2 linked regions of the Homo sapiens genome follow. The protein of the gene in region 2 purifies or fractionates together with the protein of the main gene of each other region. This does not show direct contact. Each region holds a gene or a part of one and is shown on either strand. Other genes may lie near its edges.

Region 1 (2,743 bases), on a different chromosome or scaffold from region 2:
TGGCGGGCCTTAGTTCCAGGATGTGCTCCTTAGAGCCGAGGTGGGAGAGGTTGAACTTCATGTTGACGGGGCTGTCCATGTCGACACTCTCTAGGCTGATCTGTTCAACCTGGAGGAAGAACAGGAAATGATTTGGGACAAGCTTCTACAGCACAAGCAGAGGACTAGAAAGAGATCAGCTGCAGGGGCTTTGGTCACGAGGACAGGCTGTGGCTTCCCACTCCCGCTTTCTGCACTCTCCTTACCAGCAGTGGCTGTGAAAGAGGCTATTGTACATTTTTGTCAGTTGGAAGAAAAGGCCAATTCCATCGAGAATACCCTGTAAATCTTTAGGACTTCTCACTCAGCCTTAACAAGGTAATTAAAGGTACAGGACTGGGCTTACAGAGTGTTCCCATTTCAAGTTTTTTTTGATGAGTTTATGAAATATTGTGCTAATTAATAATTTTTAAAAACTAAAATTTAGGTAATGATTTTTTTTTTTCTGGAGTCAAAATAAGAAGTACTGCTGTTGGGCATCAGCAGGGAATGCGCCCAGGGGAATCTTCTGTCTGAAAGCTGGGCTTTGATTTGTAAGGTAAGTGAATGATGAGTGAGTTTACTGGGAGCTATCAGAGGTACACAGAGTGAGTGATCTGCAGAGTTCTCAGGGCTCCAGTTCAAACCAGCATCTTTGGTAAAAGCCAGTGGGGCAGGGCCCAGATAAACCAAGTCTGACTTTTGCTCAGAGGGTTGGGAGGAGCACAAATATATCAAAGTAAGATAGGATAAAAACCACAATGCTTTGATTGGGCATCTGTTAAGTGAGGACTTGGCAGTGGTGACCCAGAAGTGCCCATCAGTGTTCAGGCAGAATTATGTCCTAGTACCCCAATGGGAAAGTTTATAAGCAGAACTTCTGGATTTGTAGTTTGGGAACTTGATGAATATCTCAACTGTCAAACATCAGTTGGGTATCTTAGTCTACTTAAGGTAAATGTAACACTGGCTTATTTATTATTATAAAATAGCATCATGAACTTTTTGGCTAGACAAGTCAGGTCATATAGACAAAGATTCTGAGGCCCAAAAAACTGAAGCAAGTTGTCCAATTCACACAGCCAGCCAGTTGTTGATTAGGTTTTTTGGTGGGGTAATTTCTCAGTCATATTAACTGCAGAGAGTGGTGAGTGACGACCTCATACTGTCTCAGATCTTTGGGAAAATCATCAAGATCTCTAGATATGAGATATTAATCATTCATAGGAACTGAACACATGTGATATATATGTCAGGCATTGTTCCAGGCAGTTCACATGTTTCAATTCAATTAACCCTTCCATCAGCCTTCAGAGGTATTATTATTCCCATCTTACAGGTGAAAAAACTGAGGTTGAGAGAAGTTAAATAAACACAAACTATGTAACAGAGGTAACAGATAGGGAGGGCCAGGGAGTTACGTTCAAAACCAGGTAGTCTGCAGCCCACCCCTTTAAACACTGCCAAAATGCAATTAGGGAAAGGAAATATCAGTGGCTCGCAATTTCCAACTTCAGTTCCTTAAAGAATACAAGTGATTTGGAAGACAAAACTTCTTAATGAAGGAACAACTGTCTTAAAAATAAAACAAAGAATATGAGACCTACTTGGTTTCCCTAGTGAAAATTAAAATCAGCCTTGTATGCTATACATTTATAAAACAGAACTGAACAAATTAAAAATAATTTCATTTTTTGAATCATGTAAAAATAGCTCTTCCCGAGATGGACATACCCTCCCACATAAATCAAAAACTACAACAAGAGAAAATGCTCTGAAACTGTGAATCTTAAAGTCTTTTCTCCCAAGCTTTGTGTTTTGATCTAATAATTCAATCACTTTAATTTACTTGTCTTTTCCATACTGGGTCCATTAATTTATCCATTAAATTCAAGGTATGATTAACTTCAGTGAGGCTGAAAACGACGTGAACTGCACTGTATACATGACTCCGTAGGGATAAAATTTTGTGGCAACACAGAGTGGGATATACTCACAGCAGTGGGATCAGGTTCATGAATACTTCTCTTCTGCCTGCTGTCTTTCTTAGAATAGCCGTTGATTTTGCACTCGTAGCATGCTTCTGGGGACAGAGCATTTTCCTCATCGACCTCTGTATCCAGTGACAGGTACTGCCCCTTGTTAAATCCCATTCCTGAGACACAGTGGCTATTTGCAAAAAGCAAAGTATTGTTAGACTTTATCACTGACTTGACCATAGTTTTCCAGTGGTAGAGCAGACTCTTCAGAAACACGAAACCAACAGAGCAAACACTAAACTCATAAACATAAAACCCTAATATTCTTTGCAACTCTTTTATTTTTCTTTTAGAGACAGGGTCTTGCTCTGTTTCCCAAGCTGGAGTACAGTGGCACGATCTTGCTCACTGCAGCCTCAAACTTCTGGGCTCAAGAGCTCCTCATGCCTCAGCCTCCAAATTAGCAGGGACAACCGGCACACACCACCACATCCAACTAATTTTTTTTAATTTTCATGTTTTGTAGAGATAGGGTCTTGCTATGTTGCCCTAGCTGGTCTCCAACTTCTGCCTTCAAGCGATTCTCCTACCTCGGACTCCCAAAGTACTGGGATTGCAGGGATGAGCCACAATCCCCTATAATTCTTTAACACACAATAGATAAACTTTTCCCTTATTTTGAAACAGCAAAATTCTTCTGAGGGTGAGCCCCATGCTTTCCCAATTTTCAATCTTAGTTAGACTGA
Region 2 (4,456 bases):
TCTAACTTAAGAGTCAATTCTAAGGCCATATTGATAGAATATTTGTAGTTGAACAAAGAATAAATGGAGAAGGTCATTTTACAGCTGAATGCCCACTAATAATGTTATCTATTCCTAAGAAACTTTATTCTTTTCAATTTTTTTTAAGTAACTTTATAGTGGAGAAATCTGAAAGACAGCGTCTCGGCCAAGTGGACAAGGTTGAGATCACCAATGAAGAGACAAACTGACATCACTTGGACCCTGTTATGTTGCAATGAAAAGGACATTTCAGCACTTCTGTGGTATCCCTACCAACAATGCATAATCTGAACCCGCAATTCACCACTTCTGTGGTATCCCTACCAACAATGCATAATGTGAACCCGCACATGAATTACATCAGACACAACTCCAAATGAATGCCTTTCTCCAAAATAACTTGCCTATACTCTTCAAAAATATCAAGCATAGAAAGACAAAGGGTGTAGAATCCTCAAGATTAAAGATTATGGAAATGTGACAATTAAAGGCAATGCATAAAATTAGACTGTGAACACAGGTGGTGGTGGCAGATGGGTAGGGGACACTTGTAAGAACCTTAAGTGAAAAATAGAACAAATTTAAATATAGAACTGCAGAGTACATAACATGAAGTTAGGTAATATGTTATCTAGCACTGTATAATAGATAATACAATAAACTACTATTAGCAGTCTTTGGATAGATATCTAATATTTAATAAATAACATTATCTGGTATACAATCTGAAATTATCTAATATGTTATGTGAAACCATATACTAGGTCTTCCTAAATTCTACTTACCAAGACAGCCCCTGGTACGTGGGCTTCCTTGCTGCAGAAAGCTATAATCAGCTGTCTCTGGTTACAGGTATGTTTCTAGTGGTATTCAGCTGATGGTCATCAACAAAACAAACAGGAAAAATGTAAACACTTGGCAAACGTGGGTAAAGAGTAAATAAGAATTTCTTAGGCTACTTTTGCAACTTTTCTATAGGTTTCAAATGACATGAAAATAAAAAGTTTTATAATTTTAGGAAACAGTCATAGGAAAAATAATAACAATAATGAGATTAATGAGTATGATATAACATGATAATTCACTAGTTTAGTCTGTCAGCATTTGGAAATTTCCATAGTTAAACACATAAGGGGGAAATATTAAGAAAAAAATTATAAAAATTTGTAAATGTTCATAAATAAACCTATAAATATACAAAAAGAAAGAAACACATTACGAGCTTAACAGTTGCTACCTTTACTTCATGGATTCGTAGGTAATAAAAACATTTTGTTCTTTTTTTTTTTTTTTTGAGACGGAGTCTCGCACTGTCGCCCAGACTGGAGTGCAATGGCAGATCTCCGCTCACTGCAACCTCCGCCTCCCAGATTCAAACGATTCTCCTGCCTCACCCTCCCGAGTAGATGGGATTACAGGCGCCCACCACCACGCCCAGCTAATTTTTGTAATTATTTTTTAGTAGAGATGCGGTTTCACCATGTTGGCCAGGCTGGTCTCGAACTCCTGACCTCGTGATCCGCCCGCCTGGACCTCCCAAAGTGCTGGGATTACAGGCGTAAGCCACCGCGCCAGGCCCATTTTGTTCTTAATAAAGAAAAATAGAATGCTGTACAATGACATGGTTCTATAAGAATACAAAATATTTGTAATGATTGAAACAAAATAGTTGACAACATTTTTAGAAACTCAGAAAATTTCAAGCCCCTAAGTCTTGCTTTCCCCACCTAAGTCCAACTAGTTCCTCTGCCTCAGTGACAACGTATCCCAAGAGAAGATCAAATCAGGCTCTGACCCAGACTGCTTAGGTTCCAACCCCAGCTCCACCTCTCACTAGTCGGGTGCCTATGCGCTCTGTGTCTCACTTTCGTTTTTAAAATAGAAAAAAGCAATACTTCTCCACAGAGCCACGGTGTGGCGTAAATTTATTTGTATAAAGCCCTTAGAATGAAGTTACTAATTAAGACTTAATTATTATCGACCCCCATGCCCGAGGACACAACCTATACACTCTCGGTTGGGGTGAGCATCTCGGTCAAAGAGCCAAGGACCACTCACGTAGAGCTTTGCCCTCAGAAGCCAAGAAGTCCCTCCCTGCAGCTCTTCTGGAAAGGTCGGGTTGGGGAACGAGAAAGCTGTGAAACACCTTGACCGCGTCGCCGTCCCCCATAAAAGTTAAATGCTCCTTTCCCTTCATGAAAGTGGACGCAACCCTCGCTCTCCTAAAAAGAGGTCAGAAGGCTTCCGGGATCATCCAGCGTCCTGCAGGGATCAGGGAGAAGGGCCGAGGCCCCTGCAGCTGGAGCTCTGACCCCACCCGGTCCTTCGTGGGAAATTAACAAGAGACCACCAGTCACCAAGTGACAGGGACTGCTTTAAGGCTCTCATTTGTGTTACCTCTTCCAGTTCCCAAAACGATTCCATTAGGATGGCCCTAAAGTCCCCATTTTAAAGAACAGTAACGGGAAACCCAAGGAGATTAACACCCCAACGTTATATCGAGAAGAAGTGGCCACGCGCGTGGGGTGCAGGGGGCGGAGTGGGCGAGCTCAGAGCCCCGGAAACCCTGAAACCAGGTGAGACGCGACCCAACCAAGTACCAATGCCCCCGGGAAGCGAGGACAGACCCAAGCCCAAGAAGGTGCCACGGACGAGAACGCAAACAGCGGCCCTTGCCCCTCCAAACCTCTACTCTCCGACGAGGCCCCTTTTCCCCTAATTCGATCACCAGTTCTTTGAGGATCCAATGCGTAGGTCCAGGAAATTCAGAAGGGCCTGCAACGCGCGGAACTGCCCCAAACTATCGCGGAAAAACTGCAGCAACCTCAGTCCCCGAGCGGAAGTGTCCGCGACTCCACCGAATGTTTGGACTCCACTTCCCAGAATTCCCCGGGACCCGCCAGCCGGAGCCAAACTGACCGCGACTCCACTGAGCGTCTGGACTACACTTCCCAGAATTCCCTGGGACCCAACTGCCGGAGCTAAACCGACCGCGATTCCACTGAGGGTCTGGACTGTACTCCTGCAGCATTACACTCAAAGGGAAGTGTTGACGACTACTGGGAAGCCCTTGACCACTCTTCCCACGGGGAACGAATCTCGTACCCCCGAGCGCCTGTTGGGAAATGTGGACTTCTACCCTGAGAGTCGTCCTTCCCTCTCCCTGGGTGCCTAAGAGAAAATACCGTATAGAAAGGAATTCCTGAAGTCTAAACCCCTCTAGTGAGGACAGGAGTGTTACTGGAAAGGGAACAAGCGAGATGATACACTCTTCAAATAAGTTTTGCCAGTGGTAAGAAATGGCATGTAGTTTTAATTTATAACTCTTGTAAAGATGGCATATTCTTGCATATTTTCAGGTGTCATTATTACATTTTTTGTAAATTGTCCAGATGTTTTGCCCACTTTCTTATTGAGTTTTTGGTTTTATCCCTCACTTTTCAAGCACTGTTCTTATATTCATGATATTAACATTTTATCTCGCAAATATTTTCTCAACAAAAACGTTTTTTTTTATTGTTTTATCTATGCAAAACATTTTAATGTATTTTATTATTTAAAACATCTCTATTGAGGTGTAATGCACAAAACGTGAAATTCACCATTTTAGGATATATGTAGTACAAATAAAAAGTTAGGAAACATTTTCATCACCCCAAAAACCCCATACCCACTAAGCAGTCACTGTCTAACACTAATCTCTGTCCTATTGAATTACCTATTGTGGACATTTCATATAAATGGAATTATACATTATGGAACCTTTTGTTTCTGACACCTTTCACTTAGCATCCTGCTTCTTTTTTTTTTTTTTGAGACGGAATCTCAAAAAAAGTGCCAGGCTGGAGTGCAGTGGCACGATCTTAGCTCACTGCAACCTCCGCCTCCCGGGTTCAAGCGATTCTCCTGTCTCAGCCTCCCGAGTAGCTGGGACTACAGGCGCGTGCCACCACGCCTGGCTAATTTTTCTGTATTTTTAGTAGAGACGGGGTTTCACCGTGTTAGCCAGGATGGTCTCGATCTCTTGACCTCGTGATCCTCCCGCCTCGGCCTCCCAAAGTGCTGGGATTACAGGCGTGAGCCACCGCGCCCTGCCAGCATACTGCTTTTAAAGTTCATCCACATCACAGCATGTACCAGTACTTCATAATATTTTATGTTTCTACTACGATTTGTTTTTTTTGTTTGCTTTGTCTTGTTTTGTTTTGAGGTGGGGTTTCCCTCTTGATGCCCAGGCTGGAGTGCAATGGCACGATCTCAGCTCACTGCAACCCCCGCCTCCTGGGTTAAAACGATTCTTCTGCCTCAGCCTCCCAAGTAGCTGGCATTACAGCCATGCGCCACCACACCCAGCTAATTTTTTTGTATTTAGTAGAGACAGGGTTTCACCAGGTTAGTCAGGCTGGTCTCGAACTCCTTACCTCAGGTGATCCGC

Evidence for each region.
Region 1: the proteins of ZNF224 (region 2) and FBN2 purify together in Homo sapiens (affinity purification with mass spectrometry; one large-scale study listed by BioGRID and IntAct). This does not show direct contact.

What each region holds. Positions count from the first base shown.
Region 1 is NC_000005.10:128,259,721-128,262,463, forward strand, and holds part of FBN2 (fibrillin-2 precursor), read right to left. Parts: intron 2,188-2,743; coding exon 2,016-2,187; intron 110-2,015; coding exon 1-109.
Region 2 is NC_000019.10:44,092,782-44,097,237, reverse strand, and holds the start of ZNF224 (zinc finger protein 224), read right to left. Parts: upstream 2,878-4,456; 5' UTR 2,708-2,877; intron 896-2,707; 5' UTR 807-895; intron 1-806.